4 separate regions of the Homo sapiens genome follow, and all the other regions are linked to region 1. The links come from fine-mapping of genetic effects on gene expression. A gene starts in region 1. Each other region holds a variant in brackets. All regions are shown on one strand. Distances are between the middles of the regions. Region 1 holds the start of NRN1 (neuritin 1). Region 2 overlaps LY86-AS1 (LY86 antisense RNA 1). Region 3 holds the start of LOC105374898 (a long non-coding RNA gene). Region 4 holds the start of LOC124901250 (a long non-coding RNA gene).

Region 1 (8,104 bases):
CACCCTTAACAACCCACCCGCCCGCCAAAAAGCCCGCCTACACTCCGGACGGCAGCGGGGAGAGGCTGTTCTTCTCCAGGTGCCAGCCCTGCTGCTGAAAGTGAGCTCGCCGCGGCCCGGGGCTCCTGGCCCCAGCTCAGGACTCCCTGCAGAGAGCAGGCAGGGATAAAAGCTGAGCGGCGGGAGGAGGAGGAGGAGGAGGAAACACAGGCCGCACGAAGGTCCAAGCCCCAAGCCCCCAAGCCCCCGGCCTCTGGACGGCCAAACCCCGAGGCGCGGGACTGGAAGGACAGGTACCAGGCTGCGGGCGCGCGGCTGTGGCCATCTCTTTCCGCCCTGAGGCCGACGAACCCGGCTGGAAGCTGAGTGCCTAGCGGCCCAAAGCAGCCCGGGCGCCGGGAGGGCGCCAGAGAAGCACAGCGTTAGGGCGGGGAAGAAAGGGTGAATCTCAGAATCGAAATCCGCACTGGCGCCCACGACCCTGGGCGCCGGCCTGGTCCTCGGCAGCTTTCTGGCGGCTGCGCTTGTGTGTGAATGTGTCCCGGGAGGACCGGACACCTCAATCCCCCGGCCCCCAACGCGGGCGCCTGTCCGCGAGCGCCGGGCCAGACGCCGAAGAGGAAGGTGACCGAACCCGTAGCAGCTTCCGAGAGCGTACCCGTTTGCAAATTGCTGCAGGAAGAGCGAGGCGGGCCTTGCGCTTTTTAATCCGGAACGGGAAGCACTGGGGAAGGGACCGAGGTTAACTTCGACCTCCGCTGGGGCAGATACGTAAACCTTCTCAAACCTCCGAGTTCACCTTACAGCGAACATTAAATACCCTTGCGACTACAATACTAACAAATCGAACACTGACGTAAAATCTTAAGAATAAACGAATCTTTGTTCTGATAGAGCTCGTTCAAAATGGAAATACACTCCACACATCTTCCTCTATAACGCATGTCACAAATACAGCTTTGCAGAGAAGAAACGAAATAAAATAAAGTCCAATCTCCCCGTCCACGTCTCTCCCCACCCCTTGCCTACACCCCCAAAACTCAGTGGCGAAAGAAGCCCCTAAAATGCATTGACATTTTTTAAGGGGAATTGGGGCTCGCCGGGGGCGGGAGCGCTCTTGTCACGTTATCTTCCCAGGCGCTGCTGGAGAAGACCCTGCACACCGCGCATGTGTGAGTGTGTGCTGTGTAAAATAAGTCGTGAACATTTCTGTCTTTTAAAACTGTGACTCCTTGGACTCTAGCCTTCTCTGGGAGGCCGGGAGGCTGCGCGCGGGACGGATTTTGCAGGCGCACGCGTCCCAGCAGGTCGCAGCCCGTGGGTCCCTCGCTGTCCTTCCTGAACCCCGCTTAGGCGAGACTCTAGCGGGTGACCCTGGCTCCTTCCCTGTCCTCTCTGCCGTCCCCTTCTTGTGCGGTTTCCATCCGTTCATTCATTCGTTCGACCTCTCATTCATTCCGAACTTCCTCCTGCTGCGTCTTCTTTCGTGTTCACCACACTCTTCTACCTCCCCGCCCCTCCCAACCCCCACTTTTCTTGCCAAATGTCAATGATTTGGGACAGCTCCCAGCCGTGAATTAATAAAGACCGAGGTTCTGTTGCAGGAAAGGGCAGACATTAGGGAACAAATACGTTCAATTTCAATTCCACAGTCAACAAATAGTCATTTTTGGACCGAGGTTAATGTGTTCAAAACGCGTCCCTCAGGCACGACCACCGTCTTTTTTTTCCCTCCAAACCTCTCAAAGTAAGGTTATTTCCTACCGGGAAAACAGAGTCCCAAATCTTGTCCGATTAAAATTTCTATCTCAAAAACAACTCTCTCTCCTGCTCTCTAAAAATTCAAAGGTTTATTGCAAAATGCCACATTCACTTATTTCCAACATTTAAGGAATTTGCTGCCATTAGAAATATTATTTACAGCAGCTCTTTTCACTAATGTCAAAGATTCAAAACAACCAGATTTAAAGCATTGTCATTTTTTGGAACTAAAGGAAAACACCAATATCCTGCACTCACACACTCTAAAATCTTTATAATGTTTCTGCATTATAAAATCTCAAAATCATGTCAGTTGCATAAAACCCCACTGCAAAGAATCCATTTTAAGGTCTAGAGAACTCCAAACCTTGTTTCCTTCACATTTCTTATGGAAAAAACATATTATGCATTCTCCTTTCTTGCCCCAAACCAATTACCTAAAGCACCCCCTCCCCCAATACTGCAAGGATTTGTCTGCAAAGAATGCCACAGCCTGAACTGATAGGAGGTAACAATTCCGTTTCAGGAGTTTCTTTTTTCCCCCGTGTTGTCCATTCTATTAATAACCTGCTTCACTTTCACTTTTAGGCCACGTTAATTAATGTTCTGACCCAGTGTCGGAGAAGGGGGTTTTCTAGTGCCCTCTTCTATATCTTTTCTTCATTCTGGATGGTAAAAATGTGAACTTTAAAAAGACCCCTGACAGCGTAACTACAACTCAACATTCCTTAACATAAAATGGGGACTAAATAATTCCTTCCATAACCAATCCCAAACAAACAAAAATAACAAACACCCGACATGACATATTCCAAACACTTCTTAACCCTTTCCTATATATAAAATGCAGACACCAATGTGTAAAGTAGCAGGCAAATGCATCTAGAAAAGTATATCTACGTAAATTTGGCTGAATTCATCCTCTTCAATGGTAAGCATGTTAAAATATGTGGTCTGAAGTTCCCTATCACTCTCGATTTGCCCACCAGCCGGGTCTGCGGTGCCCGTGCAAACGCTGCAGCTAGGATATAGGGGGGAGGAGGGGCGGGAGAATGACAAAGTTCTAAATGCAGCAGTCTGAGCCCTGGAATATCTTTGCTTTCAGCACATAAACTTTCCAGTCCTGGCTGCCTAGCCATTTTATTCCTGCATTCACATTTCGACTCTTCAAAATCATATCTTGCAGTATCGCAGGGGCCAGTACATTGCCCCAGAGCGCACCAAACCTGGTATAAACCCAGAAAGGGAAACAAAAATGGATGTGTGCTCAGGAAAAAGGGGGAAAAAAACCGTGTCCAGAAAATGTCCGGCCGCACACATTTCCTGGCGAACATTTGGAATCTATAGCTTTAGGAAAAACCGATCTGGGACGCGCTAGTCCCCAGGAACTGATGCCCCCACCCTCGGGGGATTGCCGGCTTCTCCGCACCCTGGGGCGGCCGCGGACCCGCTAGTCCCCCTCCGCGCCTCGGGCCGGGGCAGGCTGCCTCCCGCCTCCAGCCTCCAGCCGGGCTGAGCGGCCACTTACCTATTTGCACCGCGAGGATCAGTGAAATATATCTGCCGTTCAACTTAAGTCCCATCCTACGTTTAGTCAAACCATTTGCGACCGCAGACCTTTAAATAGTTAGTTTAGAGAACGCGGGGGAAAGCCAAAAAATAGGCATTGCCAACAAGTTCCGGGAGCGACAGAGACTTTATGCACTGGGAAGGCAGAGGGAGGAGAGAAAGAGAGGGAGCGAGGAAGAGACAGAAAGAGAGAGAGAGAGAGAAAGAGAGAGAGAGAGAGAGGCTGAGGGGGGGGGGAGAGCTGGGAATGGTTCACTCCATTAGAAGGGGGCGGAGGAAGTACAGCCTCACGCCCACGAGCAGGCCTGACGTGGGGGATGACACGGAATGATTTTTTTTTTAATATAGACACCTTGGTAGAGAATCGCCATTTATAGTCATCAGAAGCTGGAATTAATCAGATATCTCCAATTAATGTGCGATCTGAACGAAATTTTGCCTCCCGGGGGTGAGCACTTTCCTATTCTAGCGGTCACCCCTGCCTCTTCCTCGTTCCGGGGGCCCCCCAGCCCCGCCGCCTCCCTGCGCAGAACAGGGGCTCCCCCTCCCTTCCCCGCCAGGAGCTGGGGAGTCCTGGCGCGCCCACTCGATTGTTTCAACCTGCTCCCCCTCCTCCATCAGCACCACAGAGAATCCAGCCCGCTCTCTACGATGCAGGGGGGTTTAAAGGAGCGGGAGAGGGAAAAACAGCTAAGCTAGCTCGATTAATTCGAAAGCGCTCCTCGGCCGCCCGCCCCCTGCGCTTGCCTACCCTCTTTTTCTCCAACCCAGCAGCTGAGCTCTGGGCGCAGCCTGGAGCGCGTGAGCACGCAGCCCGGCCCCCCGCACGAGCACACACACACACACACACACACACACACACAAACGCGCGCGCGCACGCCCGCCAGCCGCGCCGAGCGCCCCCATGCCCGCCCGCACACAAGGCACGCGAGCGCGCGCACACGCCCAGGCCCCGGGGGTTTGGTTTGCACACGTGGGGCCCCAGAAATAAACACCGAATGTCCTCTGAATTTTACCCACCTGCGATGCCCCAGCGGGCCAAAGGCCGCTTCAAGGGACACAGCGACACCTGTTTTAGGGGGCGAGTAGGGCACCGGGGAAGGAGCCTCTGATAAGACAGTTTTCGGATACTAGTGATTTACCAACCAACTCTCAGCGCTTTAGGAAATTTCCAAGGCAAGCGCTGGTGTGCGGACTTCTTTCTAATCTTGATGCGCCTCTTGGGCTTATTTGTTGGGCTACACACACACGTACCCACACGCACACACGTACATCACGTACGCACACGCACACCCGGACCCACACACACCTGCACTGTCTTTTGATGCTCAGGCACAGACCCTGTGTAGGTGTAGCCTACCCTGCAACAAAATACTTCTGCAGCTGGCTTTGTGCTAGGTGCAAGCTGCTATCGACGACAGCTTGAGTCAAAACCGAAAAACTAACAGGGCTATTTCCTTTCTAAACGCCTTTAAGCTCTGGTTTTCTTCCTTTCTTCTGCACCAAACAGAAAAAAAAAAAGTCTAAATTGTAGCGTCTTTAATAAAATGCTAAAGAAGGCATTGGCCAGCTTTAATCCTTAAGCCTGTGGAGAGAAAAAAATGAAAACGACCCCCCAAATTTTGCCAAACTACACTAGAGGACGTCAAGCTGTCAAACTGTAGAAATGCACACGGATTAAGGAGAAGCGTTGAATTTGCTTCTACAGGCAGCTTGCCCTCTAGGGCCAATCTTGCCGTCCCCATACTCAGATATTTGGAGATGCATAGACAAAGGGGGAGAAAGGTGCAAAATAACGGGGGTAGGACAGGCTGTGGAGGGTAGGGGGCCGAGGGGAAGCTGCGGGGGTCCTACTGCAGCACTTGGTGACGTGAGGTGTCTGCAATGTGCGGCCCCTAACTCACGTCCCGCGGGAGCCTCAGACTCCCATGCAGCCTTCCTGGCCCTGGGGGCGGAGTCATGTCTCCCCGCCCCTGGTTATGTCACCGGCCTGCGGGCGGGGCGGTTGGGGGCTCGCCTTCCGGTGTCCAGGGGCACGGTGGCGGCCCCGGGTGTTTCCTTTCCCCGAGCTCGGAGGCTCCGGGAAGAACCGAAAACGTGGGCGGACAAGGGGTGGGGCGGGGGCTGGTGGCGAGAGGGGGGCGTTTCTCGGACCCTCCCCCGACGTCTTCCAATGGCAGGGCGGGAGGCTTTCCGAGGGGCGGGGCCTCAGGGGGGTTGCCACGCGGCCCGGCCCACGGCTCCGCCCCTCGCTCGGGGTTCCGCGTGGGGCCGGCCCAGCTTTCCCGGACCAGGCCACCAGCTGCGGGCCCCCAACCTCGCTCAGACTCGTGCAGAGCCCAGGCTTGGGAGTGGCTTAAGGTTTTTTGCCCTCAACGTCCTTGCCTTCCTCCTGCTTATCCACCTGGGATCTTCACAGCATCATTTTCTGGGATCCTCTCCAACCCCTCCCCTGTAACTCTGAGCGTGGGGCGCTGGGGATGTGGAGTAGGCAGGGCTGAGGGCCTCAATGAAGCGGGTGAACCCACGCGCGTGCGCACAGCCGCCCGCGCCGCGCCCCGGGCCGATCCGGTTCTTGCCCTTGGGACGTGGCTGCGCCTCACCGCCCTACCCCGGGAGGGAACCCCCGCTGACTTTTTCCTCTCTTCATTTTCCTCCCCAGGCGTCCCAACCTCCCTCATAGGCCTGAGTCTTTTTAAAAGTGAAGAAGAGAGAGGCAAACAGAGTTGGTACTCTACATAAATGATTTTCTGGGTAGATAGATGCACATGACATTTTATTTTTTGAAAAATTCTCATCTTTTAAATTACAGGTCGTTCTGCAGTCCAGGCTCCATGCAGGGTTGATTCTTCGTAGTTCTTTAATTAAAGGATATTGCATTTCATGGTTGTCAATGCATGCTGTCTGGGAACGGTAGCATCCATGGTTGGAGGTGGCTTTGGAGAACGTTCCCTCTTTTATTAATGTGAAAAGCTCATCTCACATCATACTTGGGGTTGAAGATGCAGTGGGAAGAGCAGTGAACAGGGGCAGGGAAACCCAGCTCACAGGCTGACCCCCACACTTTGGAAAATGAAGGAGAGTGGACTATGAAGTAATTTCCAAAGCTGTTTTCACCTTTGAAATTTTGTGAACTGAGGATTTTCTAGAATTCTGTGAATGGGATTAGGAGTGGAAACGCACAATCCGAAGAATAAAATCCGTGCAAGAGTGCTTTTTATAAGCCAACTTCTTGCAAAGAACGTATTTCTTTTTGATAAGCAATTTTGTTTAAAGAAACAAATACAGTTCAGGAGAGGGAAAAAGTCACAGGTGCTGTTTGGGTCTGCATGTTGAATTGAGCCAAAGTAACTCCCAAAAGTAAGTCTGCATAATTAAGGTAATAAATATGCAAAATTCCTTATCCCTAGAACGGCCAGAAAGAGACTATGTCTAATTTTAAGCCTGGTGGGCACCAACTTCCTTTCTCGTTTCATGGCGCTACAGCCCTAGTCTGGATGAGCAGTATGCCAGTTGATTCCCCAGCTCCTGCTATGAATCCATCATAGGTCGGCTTTCCAGAAGCTGCCACCTCGACAAACAACCCTTTGAAATTATTTGCAAGAGCAGTTGTCAAGGCCACTAGGAAATCCCATCTTTGTATTCTAGGTCAGAAAAAATCGCTGCTCTATTAGAATAGATTGGTCTAGCAATACATCTCTCTCATAAATTTAGTCAGTCATTTAAATATCTTCAGCTAAAACCTTTAATAAAAATGTGAATTTATATTACATAACTTTTCATTAAAATGATAACTATACTGTATTTAAACAATCATATAGATTACGAGAGGAAGGAGATTTTTGTGGAGGTATATACATTGGTAGAGGCCCCAGTAAAAATCTACTTCGGGAGGCCTGGGTCTACCCTTGCATCTGTGGCTTGGTAAGGTGATTTTTTTCACTCTCTGATCTTGAGACTCTTTACAAAATTAGTTGAAACTTCAAGGCCTTGCTGGCCGGGCGCGGTGGCTCACACCTGTAATCCCAGCACTTTGGGAGGCCGAGGCAGGAGGATCACCTGAGGTAAGGAGTTCAAGACCAGACTGGTCAACATCTCTACAAAAAATACAAAAATTAGCCGGGCATGGTGGTAGGCGCCTGTAATCCCAGCTACTTGGGAGGCTGAGACGGGAGAATCACTTGAACCCTGGAGGCAGAGGTTGCAGTGAGCTGAGGTCATGCCATTGCACTCCAGCCTGAGGAACACAGCAATACTCTGTCTCAAAAAAAAAAAAAAAAAAAAAAATTTAAAAATTGAACTTGATTTGAATGCAGTAATTTGAAATCTAGGAGCAAATGCTAAATTTGAAATGTAGAAGTGTGATTAACTTCCATCTTAAAAATAAACACTTTATTTAAAACAAATCAACGTTTTTATCATGAAATATACACACGGAACAATGCACAAAACAAGCATGCACAATTCATTGACTTATGACAAAGGGAATGCCTATGTGGTCCCCACTCACACTGAAACAACTGGAAGAGGCATGACAACTAAATGCAACCTGTATTCCTGGATAAGATTCTAGACAAGAAAAGACAGAGATGTTGTTGGAACAGCCAGTAAAATTTCAGTGAAGTCTGTGAATTAGGCATTAGTTTTGCACCAATGTTGATTTCCTGATTGGGGAATTGTATGCTGATTATAGAAAAAATTGTCCTTGTTTGGAGCAACATATACTAAAGTTTTTAGAGTGACAAGACATCATACCTGTAGCTTGCTCTCAAAA
Region 2 (8,106 bases), 460 kb after region 1:
CATCTGTCTGTTCCACGGACCCACCAGCAGAGAGCTTTTCCCAGCTTGGATTCATACAGAACAACCTTATTAAGGACAAATTGTCATCACCACTTTCATTTTCTAACTTTGAAAAGGGGAGTGATTATCCACCCTCTTTTTATGTAAGTGGGAGAATAAATGAGTAGATCCAGACACATTTTTAATAGTATTTTGGGATTAAGAAATGAGTAGATCCAGACACATTTTTAATAGTATTTTAGGATTTAAAAATGGCCCCCTCTAAACTAGATTCCTGAGAACTGATTCACTGAAGATGGTGAGCCACAGGAACTTCAGAGAGTTCCTGTTATAGAATCACAGGGACAGAAAACACCACCTCAGCTGCCTCCCTCAAAATTATAAAAACCCAGGTGCTATTTTAGTACCGACCCGCTCCCCCCGACTCCAGTTCTAACACCTGTCTTGGTTTGGGTGATAAATGTGTATTCAAACCACAAGGCTGTGAGTGAAGATGTCTGCCTTTTGCTCCTGTGGGCTCCAACCCATCCCAGCAGAGGCGATGCCAGCAGACAGTGGTTAAAGGGATGGGTGTTAAAATCCAGCCAATTCCCAAGCACACCCAGCTCTGGAGAAAAATGCCCGTCAGACTTGCGGATGGAGCTGAGCTCCAGCAACCATGCAGAGCCTGGGAGGGGCAAGGAGACTGTGAGGGCAGAGGTCTCCAAGGATGTGGCTCAAGACAGGTGCCCATATGACCCAGGACACATATGGCAAAGAAGCCGAGTGCTAGAAGGGAAAAGTGTGGGCAGAGGGAGACTATCTTTCAGGAATGTAGTCTGTAATTACAAGTGTAGACCTGCACGTGGAGTAAATCCTCCACACTGCTGGGTCACTCCTGAGGATCAAGGAAACATCTCAATGGCCGTTGGAATAATCTGGGCATTTAGGTTAATTGACTTATGTCTTAGATTAAGATCCGAGATCCCTGAGATGGGGTTTCATAAGCTTTATTAGGAAGTGGATTTAGGAAACCAGTAGAGGGAAGTGGAGAAAGGAAGGGAAGGGAGCTCAGTCCTGCAGAGGATGCTGTAGAGACACAGCAACCACACCTCAGAGATGAAGGAACAAGAGAGCTGGAATAATGATAACATTGTATCCATCAGTCACCCACCATCAAGGACTACCATGGGGAATGGGATGGGGATGTATGTTCCTAGACACTTCCAGCTTTCAGAGTGTGCAGAGGAAGCCAAGTTGAAGGTGTTATTACAGGCTGAGAACAGTGGCGGTCCTCAGACAAGGCGACTCAGCCACGCTGGCTGTCAGGAGTGAAAGTTGTACAAGAATATGGCAGAAGAACCAAAGGGATACCTGTGGAGCAGCGCCAGCATCTGCTATAGGGGAGGCCATTGCCTAGAAAATCCACATAGGGGCTGCTTAGAAGGGAGTATGACCTCTGCTCAGAAAAGCACAGGCAATCTGCGCTCATCTTTCTAACAAAGAGTTCCTGGGCTACTCGTCTCAGATATTTTCGATGTAATTGCCCAGTTCCTGTAGTTTTAGAGAAATTTGCCCAGACTAGTCTTTCTCTCCCATCCTCCTCTGTATTCGTGTATTCTTCAAACCGCTTTTTCCAATTGCTGTCTTTCCTCTTTCCCTTTCCTCCTTCCTTTCTTTGCAATCTTTCTCCTACTCCTTCTTGCTCTCCTGCTCTCTCAGCCGTCGCTCACCTTGAAATGCCCATGTTTCTGCATAAAGACAGTGCAGATACCAAAAACTACTTGAGGCAAGAAAGGCAATCAAAATTAATTTGGCAGGTTGCAGTAAAGAAGCCAGCCAAAACCCACCAAAATCAAGATGGCAACAAAAGTGACCTCTGGTTATCCCCACTGCTCGTTATATGCTAATTATAATGCATTGGCATGCTAAAAGACACTCCCACCAGTGCCATGAGAGTTTACAAATGCCATGGCAACATCAGGAAGTTACCCTATATGGTCTAAAAAGGGGAGGGACCCTCAGTTCTGGGAATTGCCCACCCCTTTCCCGGAAAATTCATGAATAATCCATCCCTTGTTTAGCATATAATCAAGAAATAACCATAAGTATTCTTAGTCTAGCAGCCCAAGCTGCTGCTGTGCCTATGGAGCAGACATTCTTTAATTCCTTTATTTTCTTAATAAACCTGCATTCACTTTAAAAGAAACATAAGTTTAGAAATTTTTTCCCATTAAATCAGACTTCTTTAAGGGGGATAAAAATCCTTGGATTATTGACAGAGTATTATTTGATTCCAAAATCTCATTTAAACACCTTAAGTTTTAATAGGTTCATTGTGTCCGTATAGCCATAACGTGCATTTAAAAATCCATGCTGGCTCAGTGCTTCGTGGTATAGTCCTGTTTCTGAAGCTATGTGTTTATTTAGTGGTGGCTTTCTGTTTTATTTGGAGGTATTACCATGTGAAAACATTTGGTAAGCCTGTCCTCTCAGCCAAAATAAAATCTAAGAGAGTTTCAAACATACTTTGAAAGGCTAGTGGACACTAGCCAAAGATCAGGGATGTTTCCCCCACTTGTGCTCACACAAACTTGAGAAGAGATGAATAACTACTTCCTGTTCTCACTAATACCTATCTCTAATTTAAATCTGTCCCTAATTAAAAACGCAGTAGGATGAGAAAGTATAGGATATGATTTGGCTGTGTCCCCACCCAAAATCTCATCTTAAATTGCAATCCCCACCTGTCAAGGGACAGACCAGGTGGAGGTAATTGAATCAAGGGGCGGTTTCCCCCATGCTGTTCTCATGATAGTGAGTGAGTTCTCATGAGATCTGATGGTTTTATAAGTGTTGCTAGTTCCTCCTGCAGTCATTCTCTCTCCTGCCGCCTTGTGAAGAAGGTGCCTGCCTCCCCTTCACCTTCTGCCATGATCGTTAAGTTTCCTGAGGCCTTCCCAGCCATACAGAACTGTGAGTGAATTACACCTCTTTCCTTTGTAAATTACCCAGTCTTGGGTATTTCCTTCTAGCCATGTGAGAACGAACTAACACAGTATAATTGGAAGCCCTCATCATAATAGCTACAGAGGAGGCATTAGCAGCCTCCATCAAAATTCAAAGAACTGATTCATAAAATCAGACAAAGAGACAATACAAAATATGGACTTTGTTGCCTCTCTAAAGATACCAAAATCCACAAAATAATTAATGTCTGTATTTGTACTTCTAACAAATTAGCTTTAGGAATGAATGGGTAAAAAGAAACATAATTCTTGGCTTTATTTATTTTTTCCCAATACTTTGGACTTTGGGTTTGGACATTTTCAAAGAAGATATCTTTATTCTAACCATAATAATACAGTTTAAAAACTCAGTTACTTAATGTCTACTCTGGAGGGATACAAAATAAATAAGATGTAGATCTTGACCTTGGGATGCTTATACACTAAGGAAATCAAACATACACTTATGAAGTAATTTGAGAGGAATGAAAATATACATGTGAAAAATAATATTGGCAACAATTCAGAGTGGAAAAATAACTCCAATGCAAAAAGTGAGCATATGAATCAGGGAATCTTTCCTTACAATGGGACCATGGGCACAGGCAAACACAGTATGTCTTAAGTGGTAACGCTGCTTTTATTTAAGCTGGAAAGTAGGACTGGAGTAGTTTTACATTCTTTACTTGAATTTACTACTTTCCTATATTTATCTGAAAACTATTTTCAACCGTGTGTTATCAGGAGCTGCTGAA[T/C]GAAGAATGTTGGGGAATTTATTTAAATAGATTCTTATTCCACGTTCACATAGATGTTTTTTAGTAGCCACTTTGACTCTCATTTGAACACATTCTCTCTAGTGAGAAGTAATAGAGTAATGAGCAAAAGCAGATACCCACCAGGATGTATGATAAAGGTGAAAGAACAGGCTTTGTGAAAGGAGGAATTAGATGCCAAGATCGGCAAGAAGAGACACATAGTACCATAGTACCCATCCTGTCATCATCGCAGGAAGAGCTGTATTTGAGCAGACACACTGCACGTCTGTGCTCTGGGGAAGGGGCATTGCCTTCCTGTCTTCTTAGATTGAGAGTCAAAAACAGCCTTGGTTGTGAGGAATGATTAGATGAAATGTTAGCACCTGCCATCTGCCTATATGTTTCAGCTGTAGGCAAAGCTGTCAGAGAACATTCACATTTGTACCCGGAGACCTTGTAAGATGCTGGATTCAGCTGCTGCATGGGCAGGGAAGGGGCACAGTCCTCGGGAAGCTGAGTTTGGGCACAAGACCTGCCACTGGAGAACAGGGGGCTCTTGACCCTGGTGAACCCACTGCCTGGCCATTGATCTTCCAGGCATTCACCGGACAATTTTCCTTACTTTGCCACAGTAGAAATAGGGCATATTTAGGATTGGGGAGATGTTGGTTGAAGGATACAAAATTTCAGTTACCCAGGAGGAATGAGTTCAAGAGATCTATTGTATAACATGATGACTATAGTTAATGTATTCTTGGAAAAAAGGAAATAGGTCACATTTATTTGAAAGAAATAATTAGGAGATACTTCACAGCTTCATAACCTCCAAGAGCCGGTATGCTGGTGGGCATGTCATATGCGTTCTAACAAGAGCTTCCAGAAAATTGCAAGGACTCAGCTCCAGGGTCACTCTGGAGCACTTTGCTTCCTCTGCCACATCTAATGAGGTGAGAATGTGATAGAGCCCTGTCTGTCTCCCATGCAGCCTGAAGTAATCCCATACCAGGAAGGGTATTCTCTGTTGGTCTTTGTTTTGGACAATTTGGCAACTGAATTCAACTCCATTTGCTGGGGGAAACCTGCTGCTACTGGTTTTGGCATCCTATATTAAAGTGATTATGATGACAGCAATAGGTATGCACTCGCTGCATGTCAGGCACTGTGATGAACACATTACCTACATTATCCTATTTAATTCTCCTGACAAATTAGTTATTTTTATGTCACCTTTTATCACAAAGAAAATTGAGTGGAAAAGTGGGGATTCCAACCCATCCTTGTAACGACTTTACTGTTCAGTCTTGACAATTTAGTAAAGAAGGCACTGATGCTCGAAGTTAGCCACAAGAAGTTAAGCCATAAGGCTGGGTGACCCTTACCTCCCTACCCGAAACCAAAGCTTTACGAGGGAAGAAATTTTGTGTCTTACTCCTCAATCTGTCCTCAGTGATGAGAACAGGGATTGGTACAAAGTAGATGTTTAATAAAATTGTACAATGGATGAACCCTCAAAAACCTCCTCTTCCAGGCCACAGAGGTGTGTCCCCAGCCCACTGTGCAAAGCTTGGAGGGAGGCAAAAATAGCTAAAGAGGCTAAGTCTGTCTTTGGGTCTTGCCACCTCTACTTCTTGGGAACTTTGCTCTCCGACACCTGCTGATTTAGAATCCTTACCTTGCCTCTTGTAAATTTCTTCTTGGCTAGGGTGTAAGATAAATATAAGAGAACTTAGAATTAGGAATGTCTCCATTAAAAACAACACCTCTGCAATTCCTCATCTACATGACTCCAAGCCAGTAACTTAAGCTTTCTTAGATCATTTGGAGACAACAATGTCTAACTCAAAGGAATATATATATACTTCAAAGTCATACATACATATTATATATCATCACTGACTAATTATCATTACTATTATTATTTTAGACAGGGTCCCACTCTGTCACCCAGGCTCTGGAGTGCAGTGGTGCGATCACAGCTCACTGCAGCCTCAACCTTCCTGCCTCAATCAACCCTCCCCTTAGTCCACCTGAGTAGTTGGGACTACAGGCGTGTGCCAACGTGACTGGCTGTATATTTGTTTTTATTTTTTGTAGAGACAAGGTCTCACTATGTTGCCCAGACTGGTCTAGAACTCCTAGGCTCAAACAATCTTCTGGCCTCAGCCTCCCAAAGTGCTGTGATTACAGGCATGAGCCACCATGCCCAGCCTATCACTGAAAAATTATTGTAAAGCATCTGAAAAATTAGTCTAAATGGAAAAGTTCATCAGTGACAAATATTTCAGGTATAGAATGTAGGCTTTCCTCGATATTTCTCAGATCAACCCCAAGAGCGGCAACCATCCGCTCTTGACTATATTTTATGGTCACTTATAATGGTATTCCATCTGTCATCTACTAATAAACATAACATCCCCTGTGGACCTTCCATTGAGACCAGTCATCAGATGGCTCAATCACCTCCATAGGTGCTTCTACGTAAGTACCAGAGAGTCAAGCCAGACCACAGCGCTCTGGGAAGTTAGCCCAGTTCTTTTGTATCAGAAATGAATGACTCCTGCCTTGTTCCCACCTCCACATCCTCCTACACACACACTTTGAAAAAGGTGATGTCAAATAAACAGATTTTTTTTTTCCTTATTCAAACCCTGCAAGTAACCTCAACTTACTGAAAGTCCCTGGGAACTTAGGAGAAAGAGAAAATGTGTCATCTTATTTTTTTACTTATCTTCTAATCAAACAGAAAAGCCTCAGCTTTGCTTGGGGGCACTGGAACACATTTCCCTTCTCTGGGCGATGAATATTTAACACATGGGTCAGCTGTAAACAGCTGTGGCTCCCTGATGAATCACCCACTTCAGACACCCAAGCAATGTCGTCATCCAGGCCCTGCCCACAGGCACCTGCGTTTCTCCGCCTCACCTTAAAACACCAAGCAGCTTGTTCCTAGCCTCCTTAATATCAGGACTCCTTTGCCCACGCGGCTCACAGGGTGGTAGTTGACATTTGATTGCCTTTGCCTCTATTGAGCTGATTCATCCCCAGCCTCACACTGCCTATCACTTGTCTGTAGTCTCGTACTTGACACCCATGTGCTTGTTGTTAACTGTGGGAGCACCACCCTTTCCCAGTTTTCTCACTGGCCTGCAAGTTTCTCCCCCTCTCTCTATCAAGCATGGACCCCAGTCTGTTTTATAAATGAGTAAATGGAACCATCTTTCCTGCTTACGTCAGAATTTGCTTCCAGTGCTTGTAACTCAAAGCATCTCAGTCAGACCTACTTCAGGTCAACAGCCCCAAATAACACTGCGCCCGGGCAGGGCGCGGTGGCTCACGCCTGTAATCCCAGCACTTTGGGAGGCCGAGGAGGGCAGATCACGAGGTCAGGAGATGGAGACCATCCTGGCAAACACGGTGAAACCCCGTCTCTACTAAAAATACAAAAAATTAGTGTGGTGTGGTGGCCGGCACCTGTAGCCCCGGCTACTCGGGAGGCTGAGGCAGAAGAATGGCGTGAACCCGGGAGGCAGAGCTTGCAGTGAGCCGAGATCGCGCCACTGCACTCCAGCCTGGGCGACAGAGCAAGACTCTGTCTCAAAAAAGAAAAAATAATGACAATAATAACACTGTGCCCGGCAAGGTCAGCTAATGCCACATGGTAATTGCTGCATGTGTGAGTAGCAAAATCACATGGAAGAGGAGCTGGCCTTGGGGACAATGCCACGTTACAGTGAGGAGCTCCAGAAAAACCCACGTGCAAAGTTCTCAGGTTCACGCTTGGGTGCCCATCCTCTGCCTGACCCCTCAAAAGAATAAAGATCTTACAAATATCCAATGAATACCAGGATGGAAATAACTTGTTTCCTGGCATTCAAGACAGAGGAAATCCTTACTATTAAAACTAGAAATGATTAGCAAAGACATGAAACACAACAGTTTAAAAAACCACAGGGGCCCACAAACACGTGTGGATATTCAATTTTTAAGGACTCGAAACTAATGCAAGCAGGTAGTTAATCTTACCCTCAGTCTCTTACCTCAGAGCAGTTATCTCATTTTAAAGACCCTCATGAAGGAAGTTTCACAGTCATTTATGCAGTAGCTCTGCAGGTAACCTTCATATCAAGCATCAATATGGACATACTGCACTTATTCAAGTACTCAACCTATTTCCTTCTCCTAAAGAGCTAATTCTGTAACACCTAAGAACAGTCACAGTTCTTCCTTTAAATCTAACCTTAATATTCTGTGCTGTGGCTTCATCTTCCTCACCTCCTCTTATTTTCCTCAATGGAGATGGGGCCTGTTTTATCACCATGAATGCCGTTTTTATACCAAAAATCATGTTAGTCTCTCTTCAGTGC
Region 3 (8,106 bases), 21 kb before region 1:
AAATTACCAAATACATCATTGTTCTATGATATAGTTTCTCAACCTTGGCACTACTGACATTTTGGGACAGACAATTATTTGTGGCAAGGGCTGTCCTGTGCATTGTAGGATGCGCGGCAACATGCCTGGCCTCTACTCAGGGATGCCAGTGGCACCCCCTTCTCAGATGTAACAAGCAAAACTGTCTCCAGGCATTACGAAATGTCTCCTGTGGAACACAATTACCTCTGGTTAAGAAACACTGGTGTATGGGGAAAAATGTTCCGAATGCCAACTAGGGACCCTAGAAATATATATTCTGTCCCTCAATGTCCTCACCCAAGAGTCTCAGAGGGCTTCTTTTCCTCCTTGTTCTTATGTTTTCTGTCTAACCTTAGCCCTGCATCAGATACTTCATTTTCCTCCTCCCGTCAGCTTCCTGGGGGAGAAAGGGCAGGAAAAGCAGCTTCAGGGAAGCTGCTTTCCAACTGGAGCAAGTCAACCCCAAAGACAGGAGAAGTGGGGGACCTGAGTGGTGTTGCCATCACAGGCAAAGTTTGCCTCTTGATTCATTTTGCTAAGGATCCACACCCCCCCAGTCACACTCCACACAGAGCCCTGCGGCGACATTTACTCATGCAGTCATGGGTTCATGTGCCCCATCGCAGGCCATGAAGAACGTGGTTTGTATCAGCTTACTTTCTGCTCTTCTGGATGATTGAGGGCAGCCACATGGGATCCTCTGGAGGTGCCCAGCACTTGCTTCTTGGTCCTATATCGAGGCCTGCTTACTGTTAAGAGCAAAAGAGACCAAGATGTTGGCTGAGCACGGTGGCTCACACCAGCAATTCCAGCATTTTGGAAAGTTGAGGGGGGTGGATCACCTGAAGCTGGGAGTTTGAGACCAGCCTGATCAACATGGAGAAACCCCCTCTCTACTAAAAATACAAAATTAGCTGGGCATAGTGGCACATGCCTGTAATCCCAGCTGCTTGGGAGGCTGAGGCAGGAGAATCGCTTGAACCCAGGAGGCGGAGGTTGTGGTGAGCTGAGATCGAGCCACTGCACTCCAGCCTGGGCCACAGAGCAAGACTCCACCTTCAAAAGAAAGAGACCAAGATGTGAGCTGAGTGGTGAAGATAAAATCTGGATGTGGAACTGTAGTGATGCAAAGGCAGAGGGGAGCAGGGGAGAGGCTGGAGGTGACCACTCAAGACCTTTAGGAGACAGAAAACTGCACAGAAGACTGTCTGCCCAAGGCCTAGGGCCCAGCTTTGCCCAGGGAATCGAAACTTAGAGTATGAAGCAATGTTATAAAGCAATTTTTTTTTAGTTGTGCAAGTGTCAAATGCTGTAAATGAAACAAAATCAGGCAATGTGATAGTGCCTGTTTGCTGGGAGGATTTCCGGGAGAAGGTGGCTATCACTTTACAATGAAAGGTCAGAGAAGGTATCTCCGAAGAGGTGGCATTGAGGTTGAAACAAAATGACAGGAAGGAGCCTTCCACACAAAGACTCTGGGGAGAGGCAGAGGAAATAATGAGTTCAAAGGCATGAAGGCTAAATGAGCGTGGGGCATGCAAGGCAGAGAAACAGCAGGTAAACAGTGGGGTAAGAGAAAAAGGCAGGCCTTGGATCAAGTAGGGAGAGACACATTATAGAAAGAGCAAATGATCCTTACCCTGATGGGCTGTCTCGGCTCTTTGCAGTCCCTCTCAGTAGCAGACACCCACCTGTGCTTGATAGTTTTCACCCTGTTTCATAACATTGCACCTACTCAGAAACCACTGTCTCTTTGTATCTGTGATCACTTAGAGTCCATCAGCTTGGTGCTGACTTTCTTCTCTTCATGTAGACAGCTGTGTTATAAAAGACCCAAAGGGAGAGGGACAAAACCTAAAAAGGCTACTTTGGGGTATATATGAGCTTTGGAATTACCCATCTCCCTGCCAGGAGGTGAGGAGGGAAGAGTTCACAGTTGGCGTGTCCCTTGAGCAAGAGAAGATAACTCGCTCCTGCTGGTTCTGCAAGGTTTCAGCAGTGATGGTTGTTTTGTAGTAGCTCTGAACTTGCCAAGAAAAACACATTGTTTAAAACAAGCCATTCATTTTGAGAAAGGCTATTGTGTAATAATTTCTTTTTCTTCACCCCTTCATCCACAACCACGCAGAGACCATGGTCATCAAAATAATAGGTCTTTTTTATTTTTACTTAGGGGATCCCAATTTTTCTCCTGTGGCTATGAACAAGGGAAAATATAGCAAAGGGAATGCTGATTGGTTTATTATGCAAGTCTGTAGTTGGGATGACTATAAAACAATGAACATTATTTTCATAAACTACATGAAAACCAGTGTCTTATATTAAGCTTACATAATTACAGCTATGTCATTCTTTATGTTCCCATGTCAATGTTCTCTGCTTCAGATGCCCCTCCAAGAGGACAGGAATTGGACCCACTTTGGGTAGCCTTGTACAATGCAACCCAGCACCCAGCAACGTCCTGAAGAGGCTGCTGACTGCTCTGGTCGAAGTGGAGCAGGGCCCTTCCTCCCTCCACTGGAAAGGGTGGGCAAGAAGCATCAGTGCTTCTGGTATTTGACTCAGTGAGACCTAGATATTGCAGATCTGCCATCAAAAATATTTGTAAAGCCGTTTGCACCACTATTATCCTTCTGCTCCTTTTAAAACCTAACAGGCAGGCCCAACTTGGAAACTTCCAAGAATGAAACACCACCTTCAGAAAACGTGGTAATTGATAGAAGAGTCTGGTGCTACTGCATGATGCATTCCATACCCTCTGGGCTCCTCTCTCTAGTTCTTTAACCTAGTCTCTCTCAAGCTATGATGAGAAAGGCACTGATTATTTCAAAATGGTGCAAATCACCTGCTGTTTAAAAAACAAGATAAATCCCCCAAAAACGAAAAAAATGAAGTTGTCAAAGACACTGGAATGAAATTTCTGAAGAACCAATCTTTTCCCACTGTGTTTCTCCATCAAAAGGAAAAGCTAGGCAAGCTTGTTGAAATGATCAGCTCCATGTGTTCAGCCTGAGTATAGGGTAGCAGGAAACTGCACCCTAATTTTAGTGTTCTGCATGGACTCTCATTACTGCCCAAGCACATGGCTCTCACATGCATAAGTCCTTCTTGAGTACTGGTTGCTAACCCTCCTCCACACTTGGTTTGCAGAGGATATTTCCAGAGTTAGAAGGGTCTTCCAGAATTTCAGAAAAAGAGCACCAGATATTCAATAAACCATGGTTTTTCTAAAGGAATTAATGGGTTGTCTGTCAGTCAACATTTGGACAAGCTGAGTCTAAGGTTGGCCCTGTAGCTCAGGAGTTGGGTTTCTACAGTGCCTGTTCTCTAGTTCCTTTTTGTGTTGTTCATCTCTTCTAATAAACTTTGGGCATAGGTTCAGCAAGTGAGAGGCAGGATAA[T/C]GGAATGGTAAACACACGGCCTCTGAAGCCAGGCTATCATATTGGGACCTGACTCTGACACCATCTCTGTGACTTAACTTCTCTAGGACTGAGCTTGCTCGCCTGTAAAATGGATCACAATAGGGCCAACATCATGAAGATGTTGATGAGCTAAATTAGTTAAGTGAAAAGCAGTTAGAACAGCACCTGACCCATCATGTGTCCAATGTGTTAGCTCTTCTTAATAGGGGTGCTCTACTGCAATTACTGAAAAGGGCTTTATTGTGGCAGCTCATTTGAAGAATTTAGAGGTCTATACCTATAGTGGGTTCCCAGTCTTTTGGCCGGCTCCTGGGATACATCTCGGAAGATGAATGTGGGAGCATCTGAATTCCTCTTTCTCTAATCTCTCAGGTTGGCTACTTCATTTTTGAGTAGAGCCCCTTCAAACACATACATTTTTTTCCCCTTTATGTCTGTTATTGTTCCCGGTGATAAGGAGTGTGTTTTTGGCTCAGCTCCATGGTTGCCCTATCTATTAATATATCTTTTCTCCATTGCCAGGGCAGGAAGCCTGAAAACTACACTTTCCAGACTCCTTTGCCTACTGCTTCTTGTTAGCTTTTGCCAATGGGAGGCTCTGGCAGAAGATTGGAAGGTGGGAGGAAAGTTGAAACAAGGTTTTTCCCTTCAGCTTCTGGGGGTGTCTCCAGCTATGCAAAGGGCAGCATAGTGTCATAATGGCCCGGTTGTGGTTGCCATTTTCCCATTTACTCTTTCAGACCTAATCACTGCAGTGTTTCCCTGCTCATCTTTGAGTAACATGACTTCTCTTTATGACTCTTCTCCTGTTTGTATACTTACTGCTGTTTTCTGAAACCGCTTCCTGGTTGACAGGAATCATTGTTTAAAGACTTTAGATGCTCAAAGAATTTTGCTATTTGCTATACAAAATGACTTAAATCTCTAAAATCCTTGTTTTAAAAAATCTTAAAGGCTGGGTATGGTGTGGCTCACACCTGTAATCCCAGCCCTTTGGGAGGCCGAGGCAGGAGGATCACTTGAGACCAGGAGTTCGAGACCAGCCTGTGCAACATAGGCAGACCCCTGTCTCTACAAAAACAATTAAAAATGATCTCAGTGTGGTGGCGCACATCTATAGCCCCAGCTACTTGGGAAGCTGAGATGGGAGAATCGCTTAAACCCAGGAGATGGAGGTTGCAGTGAGCTGAGATCATGCCACTGCACTGCAGCCTGGGTGACAGAGCAAGACTCTGTCTCGAAAAACGACAACAACAACAAAAAACTTACAAACAAAACCTATCAAAACTCACACGAACACACAGGGACAAGTGAACAAACATTACAGATTAAAATGAAAGAATATGCCAGATACACTTTATTAGTTATCTGTTGCTACATAACAGATTATCCTTAGACAGTGGCTTAGACAGCAATCATTTATTATTTCTCATGGTTTCCGTGGGTAAATAATTTCAGAACAGCTTGGTTGGATGGTCTTGGCTCGGAGTCTCCATGAAATTACAGTTAGATATCAGCTGGGGCTGCAGCCGTCTAAAGTTTTGACTGGGGTTGGAGGATCTACTTTTCAAAATGGCTCACTCTTGAGGCTGGCAAGTCAGTGCTGGCTGTTGGCAGGAGGTCTCAGTTCCTTTCTATGTGGGCTTCTCCACAAGGCTGCTTAAGTGCCTCATGGCATGGCAGCTGGCGTCCCCCAAATAAAGTAATCCAAGGGACTAAGGAGGAAACTGCAATACCTTTTATGACTTATCCTTGGGAGTCAAATTTCATTAATTTATTCATATTCTATTGGTTACACAAAGCCAGCCCTGATTCACTGTGCAAAGTGACTACACACAGGCACATATACCAGGAGTCAAGTTCACTGGAGGCCCTTTTGGAGGCCGGATCCCATGTGCATAGTCACTGTGTATGCATTAGATGATAAGCGCGTAGTCTGAGTGAAGATGAGACATGGAAAACTCTCCTCTTCAAACAAGGGGCCAGGAAAGTTATAGATTTCAAGAGTTCCTTGAATGAGAAAGAAGGAATGAAAGAAGGACCATGAGTCCTTCAGGTTTCCCTGTAGCCCGTGAAAAAATATAACAAGCTAATGAAATGTTGAGCTAGTTGTTCTGAAAGGCATAAACAGGATGTATTCAGTTGCTTCTTTTCTCTTTCCCTTTTGTTTTAGCCACCATTTTTTCATTCTCTCTTATCTGCATTGCCATGGATGTGTCTGTTCCTTTGTTTCTAACCATTGGTAGGTACTCCATGACATGCAGCCAACAATTTTATGCCTCTACTCACCAGGAATACACACGCATGCTGCCTAGGAGGAGTTTCTGAGGGAGAAAAGGCATTAGCAAGAAGTAGCCCAGAGAAGTGTTGGCATTAGCAACACCTTTATTTATTTTAAAGTTAGAACATGCAACTACATATGTGTGAGGTGGTAAGGACTGGAAATGTTCTTTACTCAATAATCATCTGTGCCAGGCACAGTGCCAGATACTGTGGGAGGTTCAAAGATGGGTGAGACATAGTCCCTGACCTCAAGGAACGTATGGTTTAAAGACAAAACGGATCAGCAGTTCTCTAATTGGGATACAAAATTAAGAACAACAAGAGGTTATTGAGGGCCATCCCAATAATTCTGACCAGGGGATCAGGGAAGTGTTCATGCAAGGTTGAGCCTGAGAAGGATCTTGAAGGAATAGGACATGCAAGGGTGGATGGGAGGCGCTGGGGTGGAAGTGCAATACATTTTAGCCTGGAAGAACTAAATAAGCAAAGGCATCGAATAGAGGAGGGGTTGCATAGGTTGAAGGAGCAAGAAGGAAGTCAGTACGGCTGTAGCACGTGCGTGGGAAACATAGAGGGCTGTGGTTGGGGAGAAGGCTGGCAAGATGAGATGGGACCAGATCCTGGTGAATCTTCGGTGTCACGCAGGGAGTCAGAGTCACTCAGCAATGATTCAGCAATGGGAAGGAAATGAAGGTTCTTAAAGGAGGGAAACGACATTTTCACACCCATGTGGAAATGGGAGAATTAATACCAGAGACACTGAGACCAAAATGTGTGTCTCTGGTTGAAGAAATTATGACTATTTTACATTTTTCCCCTTTGAGTCACCTGCAGTTTCTAATTTTCCCATAGTGAATGTGGACATGTGGTGAAAATTTAAAAATAGAATACATAAAATAGTGTTTAAAGGGTAAGATACACATGGGGGAAAAGGAGGAGGCCAATGAGAGTGGAGTGTCTGCCATTGGTAAGGAGGAACCTGGCTCTGGAGGCCACAGGCTGGAGGCCAGCCAGGAGGAAGCTGGCAAAAAGGGGAAGGAGAGGATTTCATTCATATAGTCTCCCAATATCTGCTGAGTGTTTGCCTTGGGCTGGGCACTGTTCTAGGAACTTACAATCATGTATTTGTGAAATGGCTGAGAAATGGAGAAACAGCTGCGTGCAGTAAAAGGATGGACAGGGAAGGCCTTTTTTTTTTTTTTAGGCTATAAGAGATTTGAGTGTGTTTGTAAGCTCAGGGGAAGGAGCATGTGGAGAATGAAACACAAAATGTCAAAACCAATGGAAAAGATAAAAGATGAGGTCCAAGAGCCAATCAGAAGGAATAAGGTCAGGTTTGCAAATGCAGTGTGTATGTGTGTGTGTGTATGTATCTGTGTCCCAGAAAATATCTAAATTAGAGAATATATGAACATCTGTATAAATGTGTACACATGAGCACATTTTGGATTTGAATTTATAGTGACTCCTGAAGATAAAGATTTGGGCAGAATTGGAGGCATTTTTCTCTGCCATCTACAAAAGTGTCCAAGGGCTATTCAGAAATAGGAAACAATATACCACAACCCCAATAAACAAAGCAAGTGAGGAAATGCAGTTTTCCCCATGTTATGTTCCAAAGAGCAGAAAATATTACAAGAGGATGGGAGAAGAATGGTTACACAGGAAAACACGCTGCACAAAGGGTGCAGTGCAACAGGTGGAAGGTGTGCGTGATACCAACATGACTGCCAGGCCGGCTGAGAGTATACAAGCCTCTGGGAGACCTGGCTGCCACATGGCTGGACCATCATGTCTCTGGACAGGGATTGATGGATGTGCCTCCCATGTGCTTTGATGTTCCTTATCCCCTTCAAAGTTGCCTGTTTTGAAGAATTTGTGTTTGGCCAGAGTTAAATGACCCACTTTGCTTGGGATTTCTCTCCCTGCCTCAGTGAGAGCGCAATCCAACTTGTTTCAGGTGACACCCTGAGGAGACAAGCAGAGGACTTTGAGGACTATGAAAGCCATTTTTTATAGTCACTTGCTGAAGCTCAGCTGACCCTCCCAGGAAATGGAAAGATTGAGGCAGGCCCAGGCACTGCAGTCTGTGGCAACCGGGTCAGGAAGGCGCGCTGAAGTTAATTATCCAGCCTGGCATCCCCACAAGCTTGCTTGTTTGGTGTTGCTTCTTTCTTAATCAAGAAGAGACTCCCATGGTGGTGTCTTAATGTAAACAAAGCAATTTGTGACTTGATTAACAAATCAAGGATGGACAAACATGTCCTTTTCTCCCTTCTCCTCTTTACTAGGGACTTGGACTATTTTAAGGAGTGTCTCTCGATGTGAAAGGCAGTGGCTGCCTGAGGTTTGTCTGGTTTGGTGTCTTCCTGTGTTTCTC
Region 4 (8,106 bases), 180 kb before region 1:
GATATGAAAGTGACATGCATTCAGTAGAAACCATACTTCTATACCCATACAACCATTATGTTTTTCACTTTCAGTACAGTATTCAATAAATTACATGAGCTATTCAACACATTATTATAAAATAGGCTTTGTGTTAGATGATTTTGCCCAATTATAGACTAATGAAAGTTCTGAGCACACTTAAGGTAGGCCAGGCTAAGCTATGATGTTGGGTAAATTAGGGGCATTAAATACACTTTTTAATTTTAATATTTATTTATTTAGAGACAGGATCTCACTCTGTCACCCCGGCTGGAGTGCAGTGGCTCCATCTTGGCTCACTGCAACCTCCACCTCCCGGGCTCAAGTAATCCTCCCACCTCAGCCTCCTGAGTAGCTGGGACCACAGACACGCTCCACTATGCCCAGCTAATTTTTGTATTTTTAGTAGAGATGGGATTTCGCTATGTTGCCTAGGCTGGTCTTGAACTCCTGAGCTCAAGTGATCTGCCTGCCTCAGCCTCCCAAAGTGCTGGGATTACAGGCATGAGCCACCATGCCTGGCCTAAAAATGCTTTTGACTTACAGTGTTACCTACCAACAGTGAGTTTATTGGGACATAGCCCCATCGTAAGTCAAGGAACATCTGTAAATCAATTAAAAAATGGACACAGGACCTGAACAGACATTTCTCAAGAGAAGACATACAAATGGCCAATAGGTGTATGAGAAAATATTCATCATTAATCATCATGGAAATGAAAATTAAAACCATAATAAGATAGCACCTCACACCTGCTAGGATGGCTAAGGATGTGGAGAAAAGCAAACCCTTGCACATTTGGCGGGGATGTAAGTTAGTGCAGCCATTATGGAAAATAATGTGGAGGTTCTTCAAAAAATTAAAAATAGAACTCCCGTATGATCCAGCAATCCCACTACTGGGGATATGTCCAAAGGAAATGAAATCAGTATGTTGAAGAGATATCTGCACTCCCATGTTCATTGAAGCATTCTTCACAGAAGCCAAGACAGGGAGTATCCATCAATGGATGAATGGAAAAAGAAAATATGATGTATATACACAATGCAATACTATTCAGCCTCTAAAAAGAAGGAAATCCTGTTCTTTGCAACATGGGTGGACCTAGAGGACATTAGGTAAGTGAAATAAGCCAGGCACTGAAAGCCAAATACGGCATGATCCCGGTTACACGGGGAATCTAAAAAAAGTCAAACTCATAGAAACAAAGAATAGGATGGTGGTTACCAGGGGTTGGGGGTTGGGGGGCTTGGGGAGATGTTGATGAAAAGATTAAAATTGTCATTTAGACAGGAGGAAGAATTTCAAGACATCTATTGTACAACATGGTGACTACAATTAATATATTGTATACTAGAAAATTGCTAAGAGTAGATTTTAAGTATTCTCATCACAAAAAATGTATGTGAGGTAATGCACGGTTAATTAGCTTGGATCAGCCATTCTACATGTCAAAATATCAAAACTTGCTGTACACACAAATGCATACAATTTTGTCAATTAAAAAAAGTTACGGATTTTATCTAGACAAAAACAAGAGATATAAGAGAACAAACCAACACCAGCAGCCACTGTGACCATTTGAGCCCACCCGTGGGGGGACTGGTACTTTACACGTGTTGTATCTTTTCTGGCTCTCTCTCTCCAACCCTGCAGGGCAGGTGGCATCTCTACTTAACCATGAGGGAACAGAGGCTCAGCCAGCATGTTGAGACACCAGAATTCAAAAGCCCAGTATCCTCCCAGGACTCCATTAAAGCAGATGTGCAGAAGGCAGTACGGCCGGAGCACAACCAATGCCCCTGGGGGAGGCCCACGGGACCGTTAGGAAAATAAGACAGGCACAGGAAAGAGATGTCCAGCGTCTGAAGACAAAGCCACAATGAAAGCCACCATTCTGGGGTTGGGAAGGTAAAGAACTTCAAACCAGATAAATGAAGACTGCAGAAGAAAGAGGAAGAAATGGAAGTTGCTCTCTGACAGGACAACATGAATTTGGCAAGGGGTGGATTAGGCCGAGTGCTATCCACGGTGATGAAACACAGCAGCCGGTAGTCATGAAATATTTATGAATGGGGAGAGGATGCTGCATTCTGCAGTGCAGCACAGGGGAAACCGAAGTTTCAAGAATACTGTAATAGCAAAACCCTCCATTAATTATCGGAAGCAAGCTGTAATGCCAGTTCCTATGGCAACAGGGTCCCCAATGGATTTTGTGCTTTTTTTTTTTTAAGCTGCTCCCATTTACTATGGTACATTGCATTTATTTTCTATCGGAGGTTTTGTGCTTGTCTTCTGCAAATGAATTCATCCTGTCCTCACAGTGGCTGGTGTGGAGACCGACAGGCTGGGGCCTGGGGAAGGTTAAAGATTATGCAACTTTGAGCTAAATGCTCTGTAAGCACATTGATGACTGCTATGAGCACCTTCACTTCTGAGGGGAAAAGGAGGGGAGGGCAGGAAAGAGGTGTGGAAGGGAATAACTAGGGTGCATGGCTAATTAGAGGGCATCTATCCCAGCCCCCACACGCATGGTCTTTGGAATCCAGGCTTGCACCAGGGAAGAGTCCTTGAACCCAGCTGGGCTCTCCAACAACGTGCCTGCTGCAGCTGCAGTGGAAGCTGATAATTGCTCAGAAAGCTCAGACACAGAGTCCTCTGGGGTAAGGGTGCTGGAGAGAACAGTGGCTTGGTTCCCAGAGGAGCAGGCTGCCCCTCCCAGAGAAGCACTCCACCTGTAGGCCCAATCTCTCTGCACCGCCCCCCCCCCCCACATTGCTTATCAGCTCCCCCTCAGTGTGAAGTGGGAGTTTAATCTGGTGGCCCTTTGAATGCGGGTCTTCCAGGGGAGATGTTCTGTGTTTGCCTGGCCATGGGCTGCTGTTCACAGAAACATTCTGTCCCAGGCCACAGGAGCGCCTCAGAGCCACCCTGGGGTGTGGGCGAAGCGGTCAACAGCGGCTTCCTCCATCCTTCCCCGGATGAATGACTGACAAGTTGATGGCGGAGCACCCCGCCGCTCACTCAGGAAGAGGCTGCCTCCAGGTGGGGAGCTTGTACGTTTCCCTCTCAGGGCTGCAGCTGTGGCTTGGGAGGTGTCCTGTCTTTTTGGTGGCCTCATGAGGGCTGTGTGAGTCCTGATAAATGGCATAGGATGGGGAGTCCCCTTAATGGGGGACAGTACAGGTCTCCTGTCCGTGGGGCTATTCCAGGTTAAAAATAGATTCTACCGCTGCAGAATGATTATGCTGGCTCTACTGTGCTTTCTAAGTCACCAAAGGGACTCACAAGCATGTGTGAGTAGAACTGGGAGGATGCCAGAAGAGGGATGAAATAAAAATTGTGTACGTATATGTTTCTTTTTGTGGAATTCTACCTGGAGCCATAGGAGTACGACTTACCACTCAAGAGAAAGGCTGTGCCCAGAGCCAAGGAGGAGCTGTGGAGACGTTTCTCCCAAGTCATCCGTTCTCCCTATTTAGACTTCAACCTTAGGACGGACCTTCAGGCATCCAGGCCACCTACTGACCTCTCTGGCATGGGTGGGAACCGGGAGCTCGTTGGTAAGCAGGAGGATTCAGGACTATCGAGCGAACACCACTTCCTCCGTGGCACGCACCGCGCTGTGTCTTTGGGCTCATCATCTCATCACCTCTGCACAGGAAGATTATCTCCCCCACTTCGTGATGAGGAAACGGAGGCTCCAGGAGGCAAGTCATTGCCCAGGCCACACTGCTCCTCAGAGGCAGAGCTGAGATCAGAACTCACTTCTGTCTGACCCCAAAGCCTGTGCCAAACGCCTTGCTCGCTGGCCTCTTGCAGGGAAGGGCAGTGTCCCATTGCAGCCAGGCCCCAGCACAATACCAGGCTCTGCAGGCCCTGCATCACTTTCCCAAGGCCCAAAGGGGGCACACCACAAAATGCTGGGGGTGTAGGAAGAAGATATCAGAAATTCTAGTTATGATTTCCTCTTATCCTAGTAAAATACCAACTTCTATGTCTGTGTTGTGATGCATTTATGAGCTCAGCAGCACATTTATAGAATTTATAAATCAATAAACCTTCACATTGTGGAATACATGCTCAAGTTTATTTTACTGATATTGGAAGTGAGCAAAAAGACTAGAGTATCATGTTCAAGATAGTGACCAGGGACCACCCCAGGGCTCCTCGGGGACCAGAAAGGATGGCTTGCCGAGGGTGGCCTCCATCTTCCCTGCAGCATTGTTTGTTCCCCGGGATCCTTCCAGGCCCGCTCAACTCTGATCTCAGTCCCCTGTGCATTTCTGTAGGAAGCTCGCTTTTACTAGACCTGAGAGTTCAGGCAAGCCCTGTACCCTCGGGAGGCCGGCTGTGTGCTCTGCTGTTGTTTGCTCTCTATGGGGGCTCTCCAGTGGTCCAGCGGGCATTACAGGAGCACAGGGAGGACGAGGGGAATGGAGAAGGGGGATTGAAGGGCACATACACTTAGACCCCCACCGGCCACCTACAGAAGGCCTGAGGGGACAGCCCTTTCTGAAGTGATGCCTTCCTCTGTTGGGAAGCCAGGAGCCTCCCCTGGTGGGACCCATGAGGCCCTGGGGGTGGGGCAGGGTATGTGGGACGGGCACAGAGCCCCTTCAGTTTCCTTCTCAGGCCAGAATCATAACTGTCCATGCATTCCTTAAAAGCAGAGAGGGACCCTCT[T/C]CTTCCCCATCCATCAACAGCCTTCAGAGTCTAATTACATGCATAGAGCTTCAGTTCCCTTCTCTGTAAAATGGGGCTAATACTAATAAGACCTCTTCAGGGCAGTGTGGGAAGTCAATGAAACTCCATCTCTAAAATCACCCAGCAGATCATAGGATCTTGAAGTAAGCACAGTGTTTGGCATACAATAGGCACTCATCAATGCTGGTTCCTTTCACTCTCTGCCACTTGCTGCCTGTGCATGAGTTAACGTCCCAATGCCTCAGTTTCTTCATTTTCAAATGAAAGATGATGCCTATCCTCAACTTCAGATGAGATCAGGCACGTTCAGGGTGGTATGGCCATAGACCCCAACTTCAAAACAACAGGCACATCCATTCAATTCAGGTAGCACCCACCAACTGTACCATGGGCTTAAGAGGCAGGAAGAACATGGTGTGAGCCCACAGCTTCGGGTCCTGTTGCTCACTCTCTGCACATCCTTGTGCAGTTATCTGGGGTCACTTGCTGGCCTTTTTGAGTCTCAGTTTTCTTATTTGTAAGCTGGGGATAGTCATATCTCATTAGATTTTTAGGAGGACTAAATGGGACAATAAATATAAAATGCTCAGCACAAAACTTAGTCTATGGTCAGTGCTCAACAAATATCAGTCACTGATAATAGTAGAACCACCTGGAAATGACACTGTCATTTCCAGGCCCTCATGAGGATTCTCATTTACTCGTCATACTAGCCCTGCAAAATGGACACTATTGCTTCCGTTATACAGATGAGGAAACTGAGGCTCAGAGAAGCTAAGTAACTTCTTCAAAGTTGCCCAGGCTGGGCGCGGTGCCTCATGCCTGTAATCCCAGCACTTTGGGAGGCCAAGGCAGGCAGATTACTTGAGGGGAGGAGTTTGAGAACAGCCTGGCCAACATGACAAAACCCCCTCTCTACCAAAAATATAAAAATTAGCCAGGCGTGGTGGCACGTGCCTATAGTCCCAGCTACTCAGGAGGCTGAGGCAGGAGAATTGCTTGAACCAGGGAGGAAGGGGTTGAGCATGCCACTGCACTTCAGCCTGGGCAATAGAGCAAGACTCTGTCTCAAAAAAAAATAAAAAAATAAAAAAGTTGCCCAGTGACAGAGCCAAGTCTTGCTTTACAAGCCTAGGCTCGCTCTCCTACACTAACTACCTGGCCCCATGCTGCCCAGTCCTGGGCTGGCTGCAGGAGGCTGCTGCATTACCCACCTCAAACCACACAAGCACTGGCAGTAACAAGAGGCCGTAGAGAACCTAGAGTTCTCCAGTGGGTGTGGTTCTCTGGCTGCCGTGGGCTGCCAGGGATCCCTTAGATCACAGACTCCACAGTTCTTTCTTGCCACCTCCAGAAGTGAGGCTGCAGCCCCATGAGCCAGGCAGCAGGAAGGGAGGAAGTCTCGCTTCTTGCCAGACACATTGTTTAACTGCAACAGTCAGTTCTCCAAAAACTCTGCCGGAAGTCCACCCCGGAAACTCAAGGGAGGAAACTGACTGCCTTCTTGGGGTTTTCTTAACTGTGCTTCGTTTTTCTGCTCTGCAGGAAAGATGCAACCTGGGCCAGAGGCCCCTGGAGGCTGTGCCTGACCCCAGACAGATCAGACAAACCCGAGCAGCCATTAGCAGCTGCATGGACTCCTTTGCACTGTGGGGCTGCTCCTGGGGTGCAAGATGTCTTTGTGTGTGTATGGGGTTCGGGGGCTGGGCTGGCTGACTTGCAAAGGACACGCTGTGGCCCAGCCCTGGGCAGCATCCAGCCTGCTTAGGTGGCCTTCTGGGGGCTTGGCTAAAGACACTGAGGCCTTTCTCTGTTTCACCTCCTTGTGCCAACTTGGCTGTGTGTGAATAAAGGAATCACAAGCACACGCCTCTCTGAGTTCACACTTGTGTAAAGTTGGACTGAAGAGCTTGGTGAATCAAAGTTCAAGAAGGGTGACTTTGCCGGACATGGTGGCTCACTCCTGTAATCCCAACATTTTGGGAGGCTGACGGGGAGCAGATCACTTGAACCCAGGAGTTCAAGACCAGCTTGGACAACACAGAAAGACCCTGTCTCTACAAAAAAATTTAAAAATTAGCTAGGTGTGGTGAGGTGTGCCTGTATTTGCAGCTACTCTGGAGGCTGAGGTGGGAGGATTGCTTGAGACTGGGAGGTTGAGGCTGCAGTGAGCTGTGATCATGCCATTGCACTCCAGCTTGAGTGACAGAGCAGGACCCCATCTCTTAAATTTAAAAAAAGGAAGAGAAAGGAGAAGGAGGAGGAGCAGGAGAAGGAGAAGGAGGAGGAGGAGGAGGAGAAGGAGAAGGAGAGGAAGAAGAGGAAGAGGAAGAAGAAGAGGAAGAAGAAAAAGGAGGAGGAGGAAGAGGAGGGGGGAGGGGGGGGAGGAGGAGAAGGGAGGAGATGGAGAAGGAGGACACCTCAGAAGCCCTAGATAAAAACAGGGAGGAAGAGAACAAAAACATCAAAGCTGCTGAGTCTGGTGTCAAGAGCAGGGGCCTTAAAATCTGTGTGACTTTGTCCTTTGAGTTAACCTCTCTCATCCTCAACTTCTTGTTTGTGAAGTGGGAATAAGATTTTTTTGTGAGTTTGTTCTGAGACTCATAAGTAACGTACATAAAGCTGGTGGCTCCTGGTCTGTCTTATCATCCGGGGTTAAGCTTTGAAGTGGGCACAGGTGCTGGCAGCTGTGGAATGGGGGGAGGTTGCAGGTGGGTCCCCTGGTCACAGAGAGCTCATCACTGCCAGAGCTCAGGAGCCCCCTCACTGGAGAGGCCTCACTGCCAGGGTTCAGAGCTCCCTCACTGGAGAGGGACTTCCTGAGTGTTGCAAGCTACATGGACAGACCATGTGAGATCAAGCGTCCAGGCCCCTGGGCCAAGCAAATCTTGGGCCAAGATTGTGTGGCTTTAGGGGATGTTATGGAGCCTCTCTGGGCGTCAGCTCCTCCTCTGTAAACTGGGGACTGTGGTGGCGATAATGGTACCCACATATACAGAGACTGACAAGTACTCATGAAACAGAGCTAGGGGTGTATGTCTGTCTCACATCAAAGGGCTTTCACACTGCTCTGATTTTTAATAATAATTATTATATCAGTATATATTAATATTTAATTATATTATTATGTTAATATATAATAATTATATATTAATTATCTTATATTAATTATTAAAATATAATAATAATAATTATTAACAGCTCTGGGAGAAGGTTATCATGAATTTTTTTTGGAGGGAGGTCAGATGACAGCTCGTCAAGGTAACAGAGTGCAAGAGAAGAGCCTGCCTTGGTTGGGGGTGGTCAGGGCCTGGGCACCCCAGAGAGACACAGGGGAGCCTGGGGGAGGACTGAGACCCCTTCTCTTGCTTAATCAA

Evidence for each region. PIP is the estimated chance that this variant, and not a neighbour inherited with it, causes the effect.
Region 2: its variant is fine-mapped to the expression of NRN1 in tibial artery (GTEx, PIP above 0.99).
Region 3: its variant is fine-mapped to the expression of NRN1 in whole blood (INTERVAL, PIP above 0.99).
Region 4: its variant is fine-mapped to the expression of NRN1 in whole blood (INTERVAL, PIP 0.90).

The regions. Positions count from the first base shown.
Region 1 is chr6:6,003,406-6,011,509 of GRCh38, forward strand. NRN1 (neuritin 1) reads right to left here and starts at 3,520. Exons shown (of 3, transcript NM_016588.3): 1 at 3,290-3,520. The coding sequence starts at 3,344. RefSeq lists an enhancer at 160-984 and a silencer at 5,451-5,570.
Region 2 is chr6:6,460,922-6,469,027 of GRCh38, forward strand. All of the region lies in intron 3 of LY86-AS1 (LY86 antisense RNA 1), which reads right to left. Among named protein-coding and RNA genes, the nearest start is that of LY86, 120 kb to the right of the region's middle. The variant T/C (reference allele first, on the strand shown) is at 3,743.
Region 3 is chr6:5,982,866-5,990,971 of GRCh38, forward strand. LOC105374898 (a long non-coding RNA gene) reads left to right here and starts at 8,021. Exons shown (of 2, transcript XR_926413.4): 1 at 8,021-8,106. The variant T/C (reference allele first, on the strand shown) is at 3,423.
Region 4 is chr6:5,825,466-5,833,571 of GRCh38, forward strand. LOC124901250 (a long non-coding RNA gene) reads left to right here and starts at 1,078. Exons shown (of 2, transcript XR_007059424.1): 1 at 1,078-1,140; 2 at 1,679-4,098. The variant T/C (reference allele first, on the strand shown) is at 4,709.